Regions from separate parts of the Homo sapiens genome. Here region 1 is linked to region 2. Evidence: fine-mapped expression QTL. A gene starts in region 2. The other region holds a variant in brackets. All regions are shown on one strand. Distances are between the middles of the regions.

Region 1 (10,505 bases), 530 kb after region 2:
TAGTAGAGACAGGGTTTCACCATGTTAGCCAGGATGGTCTTGATCCTCTGACTTCGTGATCCGCCCGCCTCGGCCTCCCAAAGTGCTGGGATTACAGGCGTGAGCCACCGCGCCCGGCCATTTATATACTTTTTAATGGCTCTCCCTTGATGAGTGGGATAGAGAAAATAAAAGGCCGTATAAATATATGAAGTTGGAAATTAGCCTGGAGAATGTGGAAAGGTCATCTTTTAGGCTAAAGTGTTTTCTTTTCCTTCATAGCTCTTGAGACTGTGGATTAATGTGAAGACTCATTGTAAGAAACTTTGGCCCTTTGGGGGGAGTGGTGGGAGGGTGGGAACATAATGTAATTATGTTTGTTACCTCTGCTACTTCTTTTTCTTTTTGAGATGGAGTGTTGCTCTGTCACCCAGGCTGGAGTGCAGTGGTGCGATCTCAGCTCACTGCAACCTCCTCTTCCCAGGTTCAAGTGATTCTTGTGCCTCATCCTCCAGAGTAGCTGGGACTTACAGGCATGTGCCACCATGCCCAGCTTATTTTTTTTTTTTTTGTATTTTTGTGGAGACGGGCTCTTGCCATATTGGCCAGGCTGGTCTTGACCTCCTGGCCTCAAGTGATCCACCCGCCTCGGCCTCCCAAAGTGCTGGGATTACAGGCTGAGCCACTACGCCTGACCACCTCTGCTACTTGTGATGGTCCTGCATAGAGAACATGGACAAAATCTTATCTCTGATCCCCCATAGAGAGCCTTGGAGAAACATCACTATACTAGCCAGAGACCATTTGAATTTAAGAATGATGAGAATGGATTTATTTTTACTGTTAGAAGGCTGACAACCTGGAAATTCAGGACTTAATTAGGATAATGAAAGGATCTTTATATTTAGAATTGTGTTCGGGTTACCAAAGCCAGCAGATGCTACTTACAATACGAGTAAGATGTGTAATTACTGCTTTACTTTCTAGCAATCACAGAGTTGCTTTAACGAATAGTTCTGTGAATATTTCTTTATGTCATAAATTGACTGTAACATCACAGTACTACTTGGATGGATTAAATAATTATGACATAAACATCCATAAAATGATTGCTAAGAGGCAGTTTCTAAAGCATCTAAATCTTTGAATTCTCAAAACATCAGACAATTGTTTCATTTCTGTGAAAGTGAAGAAAAACCTTGGTGAATTAAAAGTGGAAATCTGTTTAATCACTGAAGTCTAGATTTGTATTATAAGTTTACGTGGGAAGGGAAAAATTCATTCAGTTAAAAGCATACATTTATAGCCCATATATATTTTCAGAGTAGTATTGTGTTTTGTTTCCTCTTTGAATCTGAGATAATTTTGATGTTTCTCATTTGGACTTGCCTGTAGTCAGAAGAACTTGTCTTTCTTTTCATGTGCTTTTACTCTTCTCTGCTTATCAAGTTTTCATTAGCCCTGGGACCATACTGTTATGGCCTTGTATCTAGAAAAGATACTTTCAGAATTATCTGGCATCTTCCTGACAATAGAGTGGGCTGCATACCCCATTCCGTCATTTTCTTGTTCTAATATTAGCGAGGAGAAGATTGTAAACTACAAAATTCCAAAGTCAAGGCAGGTGCAGTCAGCCTACATCATGGCTACCACCTACAAAGCTCTGCTTCTCTAAACTAATTTCCTTTCCTAGACACACAGTCTGTCAAACAGCCAAGTGCATTTCTTCTTATTCTTTTTTTTTTTTTGAGAGACAGGGTCTTGCTCTGTTACCCGCCCTGGAGTGCAGTGGCATGATCATAGCTCACGCAGCCTCCAACTCCCAGGCTCAAGCGATCCTCCTACTTCAGCCTCCTTAATAGCTAGTGCATAAGAACACGCCCAGCTAATTTTTTTATTTTTAAATGTTTTGTAGAGATGATGTTTTGCAGGCTGGTCTTGAACTCCTGGCCTCAAGCGATTCTCCTGCCTTGGCCTTCCAAAGTGTTGGGATTACAGATGTGAGCCGCCACACCTGACCAACCGTGTGCATTTCTGCTTCAGAGCCTTTACACTTGCAATTCCTTCTGCTTGCAGAATTATTTCCCTAAAATTTTGCGTAGTGGGTTGTTTCTCATCCTTTAGGCCTCAGCTTATGTCTTACCTTCTCAGAGAAACATTCTATCACTTGTTCCTCATTCTCATTTAAAATAGCACGTTTCTTCTCTAGCACATCCTGTCTCGTCAAACTGCTTTATTTTATTCATTGCATTCATCACTATCTGAAATGACCATATGTATGTTTCCCTATTAATTGCCTCTCCTTACTTGAATATAAGCCCTTTAAAGGGCAGGGATTCTTTCTGTATTGTTTACTGTTATTTATGAGATGGAAGGATAAAAAGCTGATGAATAGGAAGAGGGGGGAAAATAAAGCATACTTTCTTTGGGCTCCAGGTTTATGTGGGGGTGGTGGTAGATAGTAGACCTATCGGTTCCAAACAGCAAAAAAAAAAAAAAAAAAAAAAAAGTAACGATAGTGCATTTTGGTTCTCTGCAAATGTTTCCACCCCATTATACAGTTTTCTTTTTTTTTTTTCTTTTAGATGGAGTTTTGCTCTTTTTGCCCAGGCTAGAGTGCAGTGGCACAATCTCGGCTCACTGCAACCTCTGCCTCCCGGGTTCAAGTGATTCTCCTGTCTCAGCCTCCCAAGTAGCTGGGATTACAGGCGTGTGCCTCCATGCCCGGCTAATTTTTTATTTTTAGTTGAGGCAGGGTTTCACCATGTTGGCCAGGCTGGTCTCGAACTCCTGACCTCAGGTGATCTGCCCACGTCAGCCTCCCAAAGTGCTAGGATTACAGGCGTGAGCCACTGCACCCAGCCTTCATCATACATTTAACAACTATTTCTTGAATATTTACTGATACTAGACTCTGGGAAGGATAGAAATAAGAAGATATAGTTTTTGTCTCTACAAATACCACAGTCTAGTGGTAGACAGAGAAAAACAAATTGCAATACAAAGTGATAATATAGCAGATTGGGGGCTGGGTGTAGTGGCTTATGCCTGTAATCCCAGCACTTTGGGAGGCCAAGGCAGGCAGATGACTTGAGCTTAGGATTTCAATACCAACATGAGCAACGTGGCAAAACCTCGTCTCTACAAAAAATACAAAAATTAGCTGGGTGTGGTGGTATGCACCTGTAGTCCTAGCTACTTGGGAGGCTGAGATGGGAGGATGGCTTGAGCCTGGGAGCCTGATGCTACCATGAGCCAAGATCACATCACTGCACTCCAGCCTGGGCGACAGAGTGAGACCGTGTCTCAAACAAACAAAAAACCAGATTGTATGGAAACTACATTGGCAGAGAAGGTTAATAAAGGCTTCAAAGAGGAGGTATGATTTGATGATAGGACAGGATTTCTGCTGGTAGACATAAGGAAGAAGAGCTTGTGCAGGATACACAATCACTAGATACTGTGCAAGTGCCCAGCATATCACAGCAGCATTTAGTTATACATGACTGGGTCATAGGATGTGAAGTGAAAGAAAAGTAATAGAATGAAGCTTTTAGGTAAGTTGGGACGAAATTGTGAAGTGTTTGCATATATTAAAGCATTTGGACTTTATCCTGTAGGCAATGGGGTCGAATCATCAGGAGTTTTACAACAGAGTGACATAATCTAGTTTATATTCCAGAAAGAGAATTCGGGTTGTATTGTAAGATTAGATCAAATAGGAAAGAAGTTGACATCTTGTAGATTTTGCTCTAATTGTAATACTTATCATGTTGTACTTTATTCTTCCATTTCTCTCTCCCAAGATAGGTGTAAGGGTATTACTTTGCTTTTTAGTCCTCATATTCTAATTCCTTTCACTGTGTGTGGTATGTAATGGGTACTCAAGAAAGGCTGAATTGTCCAGGTCAGAAGTAGCAGGGCCTTTGGTCTTAGCTCTGAAAATGGAAGTGAGATGGAGAGAGGACAGGGTAAATTAGAAATTTTAGACATAGACTTTAGGCAGGATTTAGTCACTAATTATTTGATGGGAAGAAGTCAAAGATGACTAAATGTGCCAGCTTGAAGAGACCTTATAAATGAGGAAGATGTAAACCCATTTATGCCGGAAGCTGCAAATTTTTTTGTGAAAAATCAGACCTTGGTGATGACCTCGAGCAGTGTATATAAATAACTCCCACCAGCCTAGCGTTCCAATAATGGAACACTAGGCATAAATGAGTTAATTGAGATAGTAAATATAGGACTAGGGAGAGTGGTTGGGAAGGCAGGTAAGATAGAGTTTGTGAATATTTGAGGACTGGGTGACACATATGCAGAAATGCATATCTGAGACTTAGAAAGTTAGGCTTGAGATAGGGATTAAGAAATCACACCAAACTAGAGATGGGGTTTCACCATGTTAGCCAGGATGGTCTTGATCTCCTGACCTTGTGATCTACCCACCTCGGCCTCCCAAAGTGCTGGGATTATAGGCATGAGCCACCGCGCCTGGCCACCCCCCGACCCTCTTTTTTTTTTTTTTTTTTTTTTTGAGACGAAGTTTCACTCTTGTTGTCCAGGCTGGAGTGCAATGGCACGATCTTGGCTCACTGCAACCTCCGCCTCCTGAGTTCAAGCGATTCTCCTGCCTCAGTCTCCCAAGTAGCTGGGATTACAGGCACCTGCCACAACGCCCAGCTAATTTTTTGTATTTTTTGTAGAGACGGGGTTTCACCATGTTGGCCAGGCTGGTCTTGAACTCCTGACCTCAGGTGATCTGCCTGCCTTGGCCTCCCAAAGTGCTGGGATTACAGGTATGAGCCACCACTCCTGGCCCTTCCCTATCTTTTTAAAATGAGCCATGTGTATTTTGTAATCAGCAAAAAGTAGTAATCAAAGCAAAACAATTTCATTAAAGCAAATTTTTTTAAAAAGAAAATACACTTATTGCTTAAAATTTTTTTTTAATTCTACTTTAGAGGTGTCTGTGGAGATAACCAGTAATGATGGTTTAATTTTCTACAGCTCAAAAATGTGTATTAGGACATATTTTAGAAATGCAATCAAATTGTGCTCTAAGCTTCCTCTTATGGCTGGGCGTGGTGCCTCATGCCTGTAATCCCAGCCCTTTGAGAGGCCGAGGTGGGCGGATCACCTGAGATCAGGAGTTTGAGACCAGCCTGGCCAACATGGTGAAACCCCATCTCTACTAAAAATACAAAGAATTAGCCGGGCTTGGTGACGGACGCCTGTAATCCCAGCTACTCGGAAGGCTGAGACAGGAGAACCAGTTGAACCTGGGAGATGGAGGTTGCAGTGAGCTGAGACTGCACCACTGCACTCCAGCCTGGGAGACAGAGTGAGACTCCGTCTCAAAAAAAGAAGCCTCTTTTTATTGCTTAATAGAGCATGAACATCTTGTTTCAACTTAAATATATCTCATCAATTTTAAATATTTCTATAGTATTCAATTTAGCCATTATCAATATACACAAAAATTATTTTGTATTTTAATACTATAATTAATACAGTACTCCTGCAGTCCCCAACTTTTTTGGCACCAGGGACCCATTTCATGGAAGACAATTTTTCCATGTACCAGGGGTGGAGGATGGTTTCAGGATGAAACTGTTCCACCCTAGATCATCAAGTATTAGATGTAGGCTAGATCCCTCACATGCACAGTAATAGGGTTTGCACTCCTGTGAGAATCTAATGCTGCCACTGATCTTTCAGGTGGCACTCAGGTGGTAATGCTTGCTTACCCACTGCTCACCTCCTGCCATGCAGCCTGGTTCCTAACAGGGCCACGGACTGGCACTGGTCTACTCGATCTCCTTGTATTTAAAGTTGGTTTAATTTCTTAGACTACATCCTGGAAGCGTACTTTTTGTGTCAAAGGATATGTACGTTTGCAATTTT[G/A]TTACACATTGTCAGTTTGCCCTCCAAAAAGATGTTTCACTTTGTGTGTATGTGTGTCCTTGTGCTTATTTCCTCCAGTGCTTCAGAAATCTTAAACAATATCAAGAATCTTTTCATCTATGACAGTCTGATAGGGGAAAATGGTATTACTTAAATGTGTATGTGTTCATAGGTGAAGTTAAACATACTTACACATATTTGCTTATTTTTTTAAAGAGTATTTCTATGTGGCCTTTGCTCATTTTCAATGGAAAGATTATTTCTGTGGAGTCTTTTGTGTACTGCCTCAATGAAAGGAGAATTATGAAGATTTAAGACAGAAGGGAAAATTGATGGATAGTGATTGTGTAGGTAGGAGGACATGATGGGATGAAAACAGATTTTATAGATTGATACTAACTGAAAATCATGGGGAATCTTGTGAGAACTTTCTCATTTTTAAAGTTTTGAGCCTTCTGCTGAATCAGGCCTGGAAAGAATCATGTAAACATTAAAATAAAATTATTTTCCTCTAGAGTTAAGAAAATATACATCCTCAATGTACAAATAATTGCTGATGTTTTTCTTAGTTGCAAGAATAAGTAGATAGATGATATTTATTTATTTATTTATTTATGAGATGGAGTCTCGCTCTATCACCAGGCTGGAGTGCAGTGGCGCGATATTGGCTCACTGCAACCTCTGCCTCCCAGGTTCAAGCAGTTCTCCTGCCTCAGCCTCCTGAGTAGCTGGGATTACAGGTGCCCGCCACCATGCCCGGCTAATTATTTTTTGTATTTTTTTAATAGAGACAGGTTTCACCAAGTTGGCCAGGATGGTCTCTATCTCCTAAGCTAGTGATCCAGCCACCTCGGCCTCCCAAAGTGCTAGGATTACAGGCATGGGCCACTGCACCTGGCTGGTGATATTTCTTTCACATCCACATAGGGGTGCACGTATGTTTATGGGAGACCTGTTAGACTAGAGAGACAGGCGTATGATTTTAATAATATTCATATTATCCTTTTGAAGTAGGATAGAGTGAGAGGATGTTTTTACTTGCATACAACAAAATGGAGGCACAACAAATTAACCTTTTTGATCTTTTCCATCTTTGGTGTCTGATGAAATATGCAAAAATGCATTAACACAGGATACTTCTGACAAAGGTAAATAAATTGGCTAAGGGTAGCAGCTTGTTCTGTGACACTCCTGCATGGCTTCTAAAGTAAGACACTTATTTCTGTGATTGATGTAGGATTTATATGACAGGCTCTGCATATTGTTCTTTCCTTGTCTGAATTACTGAACTGTCACTTGTGAACTTAAATTGGAACTTTTTTTTTTTTTTTTTGTGACGGAGTCTCGCTCTGTCGCCCAGGCTGGAGTGCAGTGGCTCGATCTTGGCTGACTGCAAGCTCCGCCTCCCAGGTTCACACCATTCTCCTGCCTAAGCCTCCCGACTAGCTGGGACTACAGGCGCCTGCCACCACGCCTGACTAATTTTTTTTTTTAATATGTGTATTTTTAGTAGAGACGAGGTTTCACCATGTTAGCCAGGATGGCCTCGATCTCCTGACCTTGTGATCCACCTGCCTCGGCCTCCCAAAGTGCTGGGATTACAGGCGTGAGCCACTGCGCCCTGCTTTTATTGGAACTTTTAACTTCTGCTACTAGCTTTTCTTTTTTTGGCAGTTGTAATTATTAACAATTTACAGATGAATACTATCTAAAGCAGTTCATTTCATATTATATCCCACAGTCTTAGATCCATTATTTTCCACTCCAAGTCAATGAGAAAAGAAAAGTGAGCAGGCAGAACTCTCCATGTTATCTGTTTTATACATTTTATACATTTGAGTTTTCAATAAGATTTTGTTTGAAAGGTATGATTCTGCTGCTTTAAACATTTTTGAAAATCATCTGAGAGAATGCAGGCTTAAGATGAAACATAATTTTATTTTATTTTATTTTTGAGATGGAGTTTCACTCTTGTTGCCCAGGCTGGAGTGCAATGGCATGATCTTAGCTCACCGCAACCTCCACCTCCTGGATTCAAGCAATTCTCCTGCCTCAGGCTTCTGAGTAGCTGGGATTACAGGTGCCCACCACCACACCCAGCTAATTTTTTGTATTTTTAGTAAAGATGGGGTTTCACCATGTTGGCCAGGCTGGTCTCAAACTCCTGACTTCAAGTGATCTGCCCGCTTCAGCCTCCCAAAGTGCTGGGATTACAGGCGTGAGCCACTGCACCCAGACCAAAATGTAACATAATTTAAAGGTATTTCTTCTCTAGTTCAAAATGAAGCCATTTTAAAATCAAATTTTTGCTTTTAAGTTAATAGTTTCTTAGAAAATCATGGTATTTTAAACAAATGAAAGTGTATCAGCCAAACACCTAATTAACCAGAAACATTGATATATATTTGTAACCTTGTTAAAGTTTTCTTATAAATTTACAAATTTTTAGGTTCTGTGGATGGAACAAACTAAAACAAGTTTTAGAAGTCATGTCATTCTTCTGCTTAAGTGATTAAAAATAGGAGTCTTGGCTGGGCATGGTGGCTCACGCCTGTAATCTCAGCACTTTGGGAGGCCAAAGCAGACAGATCATCTGAGGTCAGGAGTTGGAGACCAGCCTGGCCAACGTGGTGAAACCCCGTCTCTACTGAAAATACAAAAATTAGCCAGGCATGGTTGTGGGCGCCTGTAATCCCAGCTACTCGGGAGGCTGAGGTGAGCTGAGATCGTGCCATTGCACTCTAGTCTGGGTGACAAGAACGAGACTCTGTCTCAAAAAAAATAAATTAATTGAATTAAATTAAATTAAATTATAACTTTAGATAAAATGCATTCTAATTTTTTTGTTGTTATGTGGATATATTCCCTAATGGTGAAGTCTGGGTTTTTTTGTGTAACTATCACCTGAATAATATGCATTGTATCCATTAAATAATTTCTCATTTCTCACCTCTTTCCCACCCTTTTAAGTCTTCAGTGTCTATTATTCCACACTCTGTGTCCATGTGTACACATTATTTAGCTCCCACTTATAAGTGAAAGCATGCATTTTTTGATTTTCTGTTTCTGAGTTGTTTCACTTAAGTTAATGGCCTGCAGTTCCATCCATGTTGCTGCAAAAAACGTGAAATTTTATTATTTTTTTAAGGGCGGAATAGTAGTTCATTGCCTGTCTGCCTGTGTGTGTGTGTGTGTGTAAAATGTGTGTGTGTATGTGTATGTGTATATATATATATAAAATCATCCATGAGGGACACTTGTTTCCGTATTTTTGGCGATAAACATAACATATGCAGGTGTCTTTTTGATGTAATGATTTCTTTTCCTTTGGGTAGGTACCCATTAGTGAGATTGCAGGATCAAATGGTGGTTTTAGTTTTTTGGGAAACTTCCATACTGTTTTTCATAAAGGGTGCACTCATTTACATTCCCGCCAACAGTGTATAAGTGTTCTCTCTTCTCTGCACCCATGCCAACATCTTTTATTTTTTGACTTTTTAATAATAGCCATTCTTAGGAGTGTAAAAGGCTTATTGGAAAAACCAACAAAACAAAAAATAATAATAATAGCCATTCTGACTGGTATAAAATTATATCTTATTGTGGTTTTAATTTGCATCTCTCTGCTGATTAGTTCTTTTGAGCGTTTTTTCATATGCTTCTTGGTCATTTGTATGTCATTCAAATGTCATTCAAATGAAGTCATTTGTATGTCTTCATTTGAAAAATGTTCATGTCCTTTGCTCACTTTTAGATGAGGTTATACGGTTTTTTGTTATTGTTTGTTTAAGTTCCTTGTAAATTCTTACAATTAGTATTGTAAATACTATAATATCCTTGTAATTGGATATTAGTTTCCTGTTAGATGCAGTTTGCAAATATTTTCTCCCATTCAGCAGGTTGTCTGTTCACTCTCTTATTTCTTTTGCTGTGCAGATGCTTTTTAGTTTAATTAAGTCCCATTTGTCTATTTTGTTTTTGTTGTGCATTTTAATTTTCTTGGAAGAATATCAAATGTATATGAGATTCTTGTTTGTAGTAGTATCGTAGTTTAAATTTCTTTTGGAATTACACCCTAGTTTAACTTAAGCACAATTTGTTAAGGTTAAGCAGTTTTAACAGATCTTGGAGAAGAATTATTTCTGTCAATAGCATAATCCATCAAAATAAAGTAGAAATGAAGAGTTCTAACCACATTAGGTGACACACAGTCTGCATTGCATTAATATGGTAATTTTAGAAGTGTCACAGATACAATACTTGCAAGATTATGCATTGACATCTTGAATGGTTAACCAGAAGAATGTAATGGTAAAATTTCCAGGCTTGCCAAACAATTCCGGAATTTTTTTTTTTTTTTTTTGATACAGAGTCTCACTTGTTCGCCCAGGCTGGAGTGCAGTGTTGCAATCTCGGCTCGCTGCAGCCTTCATCTCCTGGGTTCAAGTGATTCTCGTGCCTTGCCTCAGCCTCTGGAGTGGCTGGGGTTACAGGCGTGCACCACCACGGCCGGCTAATTTTTGTATTTTTAGTGGAGATGGGGTTTCGCCATGTTGGTCAGGCTGGTCTCAAACTCCTGAGATCAGGTGATCTGCCCACCTTGGCTTCCCAAAGTCCTGGGA
Region 2 (10,505 bases):
TGAGCTACCACGCCTGAACTGGATGAAGTTTCTATGTGAAATAATGAAAACATTCAAAAATAAATTGTGGGGGAAAGTGAAAAAATAAATAAATAAATTGTGGCCAGGTGCAGTGGCTCATGCCTGTAATCCCAGCACTTGGGGAGGCCGAGGCAGGTGGACCGCCTGAGGTCGGGAGATCGAGACCAGCCTGGCCAGCATAGTGAAACCCCGTCTCTACTAAAAATACAAAAATTAGCCGGGCGTGGTGGCAGGCAGGTGTAGTCCCAGCTACTCGGGAATCGGAGGCAGGAGAATCGCTTGAACCCAGGAGGCAGGGGTTGCAGTGAGCCGAGATCGTGCCATTGTACTCTAGCCTGAGCAGCAGAGTGAGACTTTGTCTCAAAATAAATAAATAAATTAATTAATTAATTAAATTGTGGTGATGGTTATACATTTGGAATGTACTTAATGCCATGAATTATACACTTAAAAATAATTAAAACGATAAATGTCGTGTATATTTTTCCACAATTGTTTTTAAAAAGTTTGAAAGCCAAGGCCGGGCGCGATGGCTCACGCCTGTAATCCCAGCACTTTGGGAGGCAGAGGCGGGCAGATCACGAGGTCAGGAGATCGAGACCATCCTGGCTAACACGGTGAAACCCCGTCTCTACTAAAAATACAAAAAATTAGCTGGGCGTAGTGGCGGGCGCCTGTAGTCCCAGCTACTCGGGAGGCTGAGGCAGGAGAATGGCGTGAACCCGGGAGGCGGAGCTTGCAGTGAGCCGTGATTGCGCCACTGCACTCCAGCCTGGGCGACAGAGCGAGACTGTCTCAAAAAAAGAAAAAAAAAAAGTTTGAAAGCCAAAACAAAAAAAAACATATTAAGAGAAAATCCATTGGGACATTCTGGTGCCTTCCCTTGAAGCAGTCTGGGGTATTGCACACAGAATCAGGGTAAGGGATTTGGCTTCCCCTGTGTGTAAGTGCGCTAGGCCCATTGTAAGCAGAGAGCAGTGGAAAGAGAGAACACAGGCTTTGGAAACAGACCTGGGTTCATAATCCCAGCTCTTTCATTTTCTCTCTATGTGGCTGTATTTGTTTCTTATTTCTATGGCTGCTATAACAAATTATCATACATTTAGTGGCTTAAAACAACAAAAATTTATCATCTTGTCATTCTGGAAGCCAGGAGTCTGAAATGTGTCCTACTGTACTAAAATCAAAAGCTGTTTTTCTTCTGGAGACTCCAGGAGATAATCCATTTCCCTGCCCTTTCCAGCTTCTAGAGAGCTCCTGCCTTCCTTGGTTTAGTCTGTGGCCCTTGCCTCCAACCTCAAAGCCAGCAGTAACATCTTCACGTCTCTCTTTCTCTCTCTCTCAACTCTACTTCCTTTGTCATATCTTCTCTGACTCCTGTTTCCTTCTTTCCCCTGTGATTACATTGGGCCACTCATATAATCCAGAATAACATCTTCATCTCAAAAAACTTAACCATGATCGGGTGTGGTGGCTAACGCCTGTAATCCCAGCACTTTGGGAGGCCGAGGTGGGCGGATCACTTGAGGTAGGAGTACAAGACCAGCCTGACCAACATGGAGAAACCCTGTCTCTACTAAAAATACAAAATTAGCCAGGTGTGGTGGCGCATGCCTGTAATCCCAGCTACTAGGGAGGCTGAGGCAGGAGAATTGCTTGAACCCGGGAGGTGGAGATTGTAGTGAGCTGAGATCATGCCATTGCATTCTAGCCTGGGCAAAAAGAGTGAAACTCCGCCTCAAAAAAAAAAAACAAACAACAAAAAAAACTTAATCATATCTGCAAAGTCCCTTTTGCCAATGTAAGATAATATTCACAAATTCTAGGGATTTGAACATGGACATTTTGGGGAAGGGGGTCATTATTCTGCCTACCATAATGACCTTGAAAACTTTTCTCTTTTTTTTTTTTTTTTTTTTTTTGAGACAGAGTCTCGCTCTGTCGCCCAGCCTGGAGTGCAGTGGTGCGATCCTGGCTCACTGCAACCTCTGTCTCCTGGGTTCAAGCGATTCTCCTGCCTCAGCCTCCCGAGTAGCTGGGATTACAGATGCCTGCAACCACACCCAGCTAATTTTTGTATTTTTAGTAAAGATGGGGTTTCACCACCTTGGCCAGGCTGGTCTTGAACTCCTGACCTCATGATCCACCTGCCTCAGCTTCCCAAAGTGGTGGGATTACAGACGTGAGCCACCACACCCAGCTGAAAATTTTTCTTAACCTACTCATTTACTCATACACAATGACGCATGCCACTGATATTCAATATATGTCAAGACAACACTGGAGAAGAAAAATATCTCTCAAGATTTCTTTCCAGCCAGGCATGGTGGCACCCTCCTGTAATCCCAGCACTCTGGCAGGCTGAGGCTGGCAGATCTCTTGAGACCAGGAGTTCGAGACCAGCCTGGGCAACATGGCGAGACCCTAGTCTCTATAAAATATACAAAAATTTGCTAGGCGTGGTGGTAGTCATCTGTAGTTCCAACTACTTGGGAGGCTGAGATGGGAGGATCACTTGAGCAGGAAGGTCAAGGCGGCAGTGAGTTATGATTGTGCCACTGTACTCCAGCCTGGGTGGCAGAGTGACAACCTGTCTCAAAAAAAAAAAAAAGATTTCTAACAGGTTTATGGAGATATAATTCACATACCATACAATTTAAGCATTCAAAGCATTCGATTCAATGGTTTTCAGTATAGTCACGGGGTTGTGCAACTATCACCAATCAATTTTAGACTATTTTTATCTTTCTCCCATTTTGAGAAAACAGAGGCTTGAGACATTATGGAAACCTGCTTAGGGTAGCATCCACTGGAAAGGCATTGCAGTGGCTGTTACTAGCTGAGATTCCAGTCCAGGTTATACCTTTCATGAAGCTAGGCCAGTCACCTTGAGGCAGAAGAACAGGGTCTGGAGGCAGGGAACCTAAGGCTGTTTCACGCCGACTTCCTAGAATTAAATTAAAAGGAAAACCCGGCTGGGCACAGTGGCTCACACCTGTAATCCCATCACTTTGGGAGGCCGAGGCGGGCAGATCACAATGTCAAGAGATTGAGACCATCCAGGCCAACATGGTGAAACCCCGTCTCTACTAAATATACAAAAATTAGCTGGGCATGGTGGCATGCACCTGTAGTCCTAGCTACTTGGGAGGCTAAGGCAGGAGAATCGCTTGAATGGGGGAGGCAGAGGTTGCAGTGAGCCAAGATAGCGCCTCTGCACTCCAGCCTGGCAACAAATAGAGACTCCACCTCAAAAAAATAAGAAGAAGAAGAAGAAGAAAAAAGAAAACCCTGGCCGGGCATGGTGGCTCACGCCTGTAATCTCAGCACTTTGGGAGGCCGAGGTAGGCGGATCACGAAGTCAGGAGTTCGAGACCAGCCTGGCCAATATGGTGAAACCCCATCTCTACCAAATATACAAAAATTAAATGGGCATGGTGGCACGCACCTGTAGTCCCAGCTACTTGGGAAGCTGAGGCAGAAGAATCGCTTGAACCCAGGAGGCAGAAGTTGCAGTGAGCCGAGATCCTGCCACTGCACTCCGGCCTGGGCAACAGAGCACAGAGCCAGACGCTGTCTCCCAAAAAAAAAAAAAAAAAAAAAAAAAAAAAAGGAAAACTCTAACTTTCCACTCCTAAGTAAGGACAAGAACAAAAGGACCAAAGGCTACTCCCTTTGACGTTTCCCGCATGGCAGATGGGAGATTGGCAGATGGGAGATTGGCTGTCTGCAACAAATCATAGGAGTGTGGGTCCAGTCTTCGTTTGCAACTTTGTAACTTCACTCCAGCCTCTGAATGGTGGCTGAATGGTTGCTGTCTGCAACCAATCAGACTGATTATCGCTACCACTTCAGTTACATGAAGTAAGCGTAAAGTTCCCAATGGGAAACTTCTAGGGGGTATTTGAACCCAAGAAAATTCTGTATCTCGGGTCCCCTCCCACACTGTGGAGTGTACTTTCGTTTTTGTTTTTTGTTGTTGTTGTTTGTTTTGAGACAAGTTCTCGTTCTGTCGCTCAGGCTGGAGTGCAGCGGCACGATCCAGGCTCACTGTATCTTCTGCCTCCTGGATTCAAGTGATTCTCATGCCTCAGCCTCCCAAGCAGCTGGGATTACAGATGTCCACGACGACACCCGGCAATTTTTGTATTTTTAGTAGAGACAGGGTTTCACCATGTTGGTCAGGGTGGTCTGGAACTGCTGACCTCAAGTGATCCCCCCACCTCGGCCTCCCAAAGTGCTGGGATTACAGGCGTGAGCCACCGCGCCTAGCCGTACTTTCGTTTTCAAAAAATTCCTGCTTTTGTTCTTTTGTTGCTTCATTCTTTCTTTGCTTTGATGGGCATTTTGTCCAATTCTTTGTTCAAAACGCCAAGAACCTGGACAACTTTCAGTCATCACCCTCTACCGCTAACAGACTGGGAGCAGTGTGGTGTAGTAGCTAAGCCCCATGGAGTGATTAAGCGAGCAGGTAATCTGGGTTCAATGTTTGGTTTTGCTCTCCATATCAGCTATGTGACCTTCAGTAAAATCTCTGGAAGCCTTGCTTTTTTCTCATTTGAAAAATAAGGTCCGGGCTCATGCCTGTAATCCTAGGACTTCGGGAGGCCACGGTGGGTGGATCGTTTGACCTCCGGAGTTCGAGACAAGCCTGGGAAACATGGTGACATCCCGTCTATACGAAAAAAAAATTATATATATATATGTGTGTGTATATATATATATGTGTGTGTATATATATATGTGTGTGTATATATATGTGTGTGTATATATGTGTGTGTGTGTGTATATATATATATATATATATATATATATATATATATATATAAATTAGCTGGGTGTGCATCTGTAGTTCCAGCTACCTGGGGGGCTGAGGCGGGAGGATCACCAGAGCCCAGGAGGCGGAGGTTGCAGTGAGCCACGATCGCGCCACGGCAGAGGTTGCAGTGAGCAGAGATTGTGCCACTGCACTCCACTACAGCCTGGGCGACAGAGTGAGCCCTAAGAAGGAAAAAGGAAAGGAAAGGGCAATTTAATCCATGGTAGTTATCATTATCTGTAAAATGAGGTAGCCAGACTCACCTGTAAGATCCTTTCCAGCTATGTAATTCCAAGCTTCAATGAGATAATAAAGATGATTAAAAGTAAATTCTTTCAGCATCCTGTGCAAGAAGAGGGATACAATTTCCCTGAAGACAGAGACTCTACTCGCTTCCGCTGTACCCTCTGGCACGTGGCACAGGTCTCAGAGTTTCTCACTCATGGGCCTCAGGTGGGTGAGAGAGCCAAAGCGTAAAGTCCCTTACAAAGGCAGAGAAGGATGTAGAGTTGGGGGCGGGGGAGGGATTGGGCAGGCCTTGGGGTGGTCTGCCCAGAACTGGACAATGGTACTGTGAGTGTAAACAGGGGTGTGAGAGTCCAAAGGCAGATCTTCCCCAAGGCTAAGCCCAGCCTCTGTGTGCGGGCTAGAGGGGAGAGGGAGTGTGCTGGAAGGATGGTTCTGAAAATAAATCTTCGGAGTCGCGTAGGGTTTTCAGACCCGACACCACGCGCCGCCGGGTGGCTGCCGCAGCGGCGGCCTCCTCCCACCACGCCCAGCCGTCCACTGGATTTGGTATGCTCAGCCACCACCATAAACCTCCTTCCTCTAGCAGGCAATTGGTACAGCCCAAGCTCCTGGAGTAGAGACGCAAAGAAAGACACGCCCATTGTTACGCCCCTACCTCTGAGTGGCTGGAGAATTTAAAGATCCAGTCGGTGATTGGGTGATTTTCTGCCTCTAGCATTTGAAAAATTTCTAGTTTCGGAGCTTAGCCACAGGCCGGCTACGATCTGCTTGTTCATCTGAGTGTCGGCACAAGTGAGTGTCTGCCCGAACCCAGAGGTGGGGAGCAAAGAGCCTGATTTATCTAGGGGTTTCCGGCGGGAGGGTGCAAACAAATGGGTCAGCCTGAGGGAGCACGGCTTCTAGGGTCCCAGGGTCCCCCGCGATTTCCCTAGCCGAATATTTTCCACCTCGTCCCCACCTTGGTGGTGGGAAGCGCGAGGGCATGGGAATCACACTGACTTTGACTACTAGCCGCTGTGGCTTATGAAGGGCAAGTGAGTTTCCCTCTCTTAGCCTGTTTCCACGTCTGTACACGGGGAAGAGTGAGACCTGCCCGCTGCATATAAGCCAGTGAATGTACCTACAAGGCAGAAGTCGCTTATTACACGGCAGCCCTCTTTGCATCTCCCCACGGGCGATTCTCCTGCTTCCTGGGGAGAGTACTCTGAGGATTCATGTGCTCGCCCTGGGTCTCGGGGAAGGAGGATTCTTTCTGCGCAGGGACCCCTGTTCTAGTGAGGTCCTTGCAGGACACCTGAGGCTCCCTAATCCTCGGTGCCCATCCGCCGCTCTGGAAATTGTTGTGTAGCACGGTGTGTGTGTATATGTGTGTGTGTGTGTGTGTGTATATATATAGAAATTGTATATATATTGTGTGTATATATATATAGAAATTGGATATATAGAAATGGAAATTGTGTAGCAGGGTGCGTGTGTGTATATATATATATACATATATATACACACACACACACACATATATATAATGTATGCATATGTATGTATTTATATGTATGTATTTTTTTTTTAATTAGAGGGTGTCGCTATGTTGCCCAGGATGGTCTCGAGTTCCTGGGCTCAAGCGATCTTCCTTCTTCAGCCTCCCAAAGTGCTGGAATTACAAGCGCCCGCCACCACGCCCGGCTAATTTTTGTATTTTTAGTAGAGACGAGGTTTCACCATGTTGGCCAGGCTGGTCTCAGAACTCCTAACTTCAGGTGATCCGCCCACTTTAGCCTCCCAAAGTGCTGGGATTAAAGCGCGAGCCACTGCGCCCGGCCCAGGGCATATTCTAAGGGTGGATTTTCGGTTAGCCCAAAGCCCTTTCTCCGTCTTTGTGACCTCTTTGTGTTACCAGTGACAGTCCTCGTGATCTTGTGTAGCCTTGACCCTGCTCCCTGTCACGTCCTTTATAGCACCCATTACGTCCCCTATAGCACCCATTACGTCTCATGAATCCTCATGACCCCTGTGCTCCGGTGTCTTCGCAGACCAGCAGAGGCGGTGACGATGCTCTCGGGCATAGAGGCGGCGGCAGGGGAATATGAGGACTCGGAGCTGCGGTGCCGCGTGGCTGTGGAGGAGCTGAGCCCGGGCGGGCAGCCGCGAAGGCGCCAGGCCCTGCGCACCGCGGAGCTGAGCCTGGGTCGCAACGAGCGCCGCGAGTTGATGCTGCGGCTGCAAGCGCCAGGGCCCGCGGGGCGGCCGCGCTGCTTTCCTCTGCGCGCCGCGCGCCTCTTCACGCGTTTCGCCGAGGCCGGGCGCAGCACCCTGCGGCTCCCCGCCCACGACACCCCCGGGGCCGGCGCAGTGCAGCTGCTGCTCTCGGACTGCCCCCCAGACCGCCTGCGCCGCTTCCTGCGCACATTGCGCCTCAAGCTGGCTGCGGCCCCGGGTCCCGGGCCGGCCTCCGCCCGAGCGCAGCTGCTGGGCCCGCGGCCCCGCGACTTCGTCACCATCAGCCCTGTGCAGCCCGAGGAGCGGCGGCTCAGGGCGGCCACCCGGGTTCCGGACACTACGCTGGTGAAGCGGCCTGTGGAGCCCCAGGCTGGGGCCGAGCCTAGCACAGTGAGGACGGGAAAGAAGGGACACCTTTAGGAGTAGATGTGCCATTCTTTAAGATGGCAGAGACCTAGAGACCCAAGTTTGAGGGGAAGCCGGTGTGGGTATTTGATACCCATCTGACATCTCAGTATGACAGGGGTGTGGGAATTGTGCCTGTGGTTGTTATAGTGTAATCCCTGAGATGGAGTAAATCAAAACAGGAAATGGGACCTGGCTACATTAAAAGAGAAAGCAGAGGCCGGGCATGGTGGCTCACGCCTGTAATCCCAGCACTTTGGGAGGCTAAAGTGGATCACCTGAGGTTAGGAGTTCTGAGGCCAGCCTGGCCAACATGGTGAAACCTCGTATCTACTAAAAATACAAAAATTAGCCAGGCGCGGTGGCGGGCGCCTGTAATCCCAGCTACTTGGGAGGCTGAGGCAGGAGAATAGCTTGAACCCGGGAGGCAGAGGTTGCAGTGAGCCTAGATCGCGCCACTGCACTCCAGCCTGGGTGACAGAGCGAGACTCTTCCTCAAAAAAAAAAAAGAGAGAGCGAGAGAGAAAGAAGAGAAGGAGGCTTGCAAAGGACTACAGAAAGAATGCTGGGAGAGGGTAATAGGCCCAGAGTAGAGGAGCTTATGGAGAGAATGAAGTGGTCATTCGTGTCCTGGGCAGCCAACAGTTGAAGCAGATGAGGGGAAAAAAGTCTGGTGGGTTTGACAATTTTCATGGGCTGGGGCAGGTGAATCATAGCCCACCAGGGTTTGACACTAAGCTGGCGAGAGGACAGAGACAGGATAAGAAGGGGCCCTGGCTAGACAGGGTTTTGCTTGGGTATTTTGAGGTGAGAAACAGGTTTGTGATAGGAAGAGAAACTTAGGTGACAGGAAGGAAACTTTAGTGACAGGATGAGAAGGGTTAGGGAACCCAGGGGAAGGAGCTAAGGGAGGGTGTAGACCACACTGGTGTGGTCTGCCCAGGACTGGACAATGGGGGTCTTCAGGGCACAAGGAGAGATCGGGACCCCAATAGTTGCTGGCAAGCTCTCCAGGCAAACCCAAGAGCTCCATGGAATGAAGGCAGTAGAGGACAAAGGGTTACCAGGCCCAGCATTGCACATGGGCCAAGAAGGGTGGGGGCAATGCCTAGCGGGTGGGAGGATGCTCTGAGATAGCTCTGTTCCCCCCAGGAAGCCCCAAGGTGGCCCCTGCCTGTGAAGAGGCTGAGCTTGCCCTCCACCAAGCCACAGCTTTCTGAGGAACAGGCTGCTGTGCTGAGGGCCGTCCTGAAAGGCCAGAGCATCTTCTTCACTGGGAGTGCAGGTAGTGGGGGCAGAGAGGAGGTAGGGGGACAGTGGTGGGGTGGGATAGAGGAACAGGGAGACCTGTCTAACTTTGCCCCTGTCCAGGAACAGGGAAGTCATATCTGCTAAAGCGAATCCTGGGCTCACTGCCCCCCACAGGCACTGTGGCCACTGCCAGCACTGGGGTGGCAGCCTGCCACATCGGGGGCACCACCCTCCATGCCTTTGCAGGTAAGTAGGAACCCCTAGGGCTTGAGCTAAGAGCAAGCCCAGCTTCTGGGAAGGGAGAGAGGGGAGGTCTGCATAAAGAGGGAGTTTTGGGGGCTGGGCGCCGTGGCTCACTCTTGTAATCCCAAAACTTTAGGAGGCCAAGGTGGGAGGATCGCTTGAGCCCAGGAGTTTGAGACCAGCCTGGCCAACACAGTAAACCCTGTCTCCACAAAATTTAAAAATTAGCGGCCGGGCGCAGTGGCTCACGCCTGTAATCCCAGCACTTTGGGAGGCCGAGGCAGGCGGATCACAAGGTCAGGAGATCAAGACTATCCTGGCTAACACGGTAAAACCCTGTCTCTACTAAAAATACAAAAAAATTAGCCAGGCATGGTGGCAAGCGCCTGTAGTCCCAGCTACTCTGGAGGCTGAGGCAGGAGAATGGCGTGAACCCAGGAGGCAGAGCTTGCAGTGAGCCGAGATCACGCCACTGCACTTGAGCCTGGGCGACACAGCGAGACTCCATCTCAAAACAAAACAAAACAAAATTAGCTGAGCATGGTGGTGTGTGCCTGTAGTCCCAGCTACTATGGAGGTTGAGGTGGGAGGATCGCTTGAGCCCATGAGGCCCAGGTTACAGTGAGCCAAGATCGTGCCACTGCACTTCAGCCTGGGTGACAGAAAGAGACCTTCTCTCAAAAAAAAAAAAAAAAAAAAAAAAGAGAGGCTTTGGGTATTAGCCCAGGCTGAATAGTGTCACTCACAGGCATCGGCTCAGGCCAGGCTCCTCTAGCCCAGTGTGTGGCCCTGGCCCAAAGGCCAGGCGTGCGGCAGGGCTGGCTGAACTGCCAGCGGTTGGTCATTGACGAGATCTCAATGGTGGAGGCAGACCTGTTTGACAAACTGGAGGCCGTGGCCAGGTCAGTATGTTCAGAGGGCAGCAGGTGAGAACTGGGACCTGGTGGTCTTCTGTGTGCCCCTAAAGCACCCCACGCTCCTCTCCAGAGCTGTCCGGCAGCAGAACAAGCCATTCGGAGGGATCCAGCTCATCATCTGTGGGGACTTTCTGCAGCTGCCACCTGTGACCAAGGGCTCCCAGCCCCCACGGTTCTGCTTCCAGGTATTACTCACCTCCTAGCTCTGCTCTCCTTGGGGGTCTGCTCTGCTCCTTGACCCACCCCCACCCTGCCCCCACCAGTCCAAGAGCTGGAAGAGGTGTGTGCCAGTGACCCTGGAGCTGACCAAGGTGTGGAGGCAGGCAGACCAGACCTTCATCTCTCTACTGCAGGCCGTGAGGCTAGGCAGGTGAGCTCTGCTG

What was found.
Region 1: its variant is fine-mapped to the expression of PIF1 in whole blood (TOPMed, PIP above 0.99).

What each region holds. Positions count from the first base shown.
Region 1 is chr15:64,288,921-64,299,425 of GRCh38, reverse strand. All of the region lies in intron 2 of CSNK1G1 (casein kinase 1 gamma 1), which reads left to right. Among named protein-coding and RNA genes, the nearest start is that of CSNK1G1, 62 kb to the left of the region's middle. The variant G/A (reference allele first, on the strand shown) is at 5,884.
Region 2 is chr15:64,820,969-64,831,473 of GRCh38, reverse strand. It overlaps PIF1 (PIF1 5'-to-3' DNA helicase), which reads left to right and starts at 5,827. Exons shown (of 13, transcript NM_001286496.2): 1 at 5,827-5,905; 2 at 7,120-7,696; 3 at 8,864-8,996; 4 at 9,083-9,208; 5 at 9,954-10,107; 6 at 10,193-10,307; 7 at 10,386-10,492. The coding sequence starts at 7,139. RefSeq lists enhancers at 5,565-5,694, 6,884-7,551, 9,093-9,594 and a silencer at 7,253-7,742.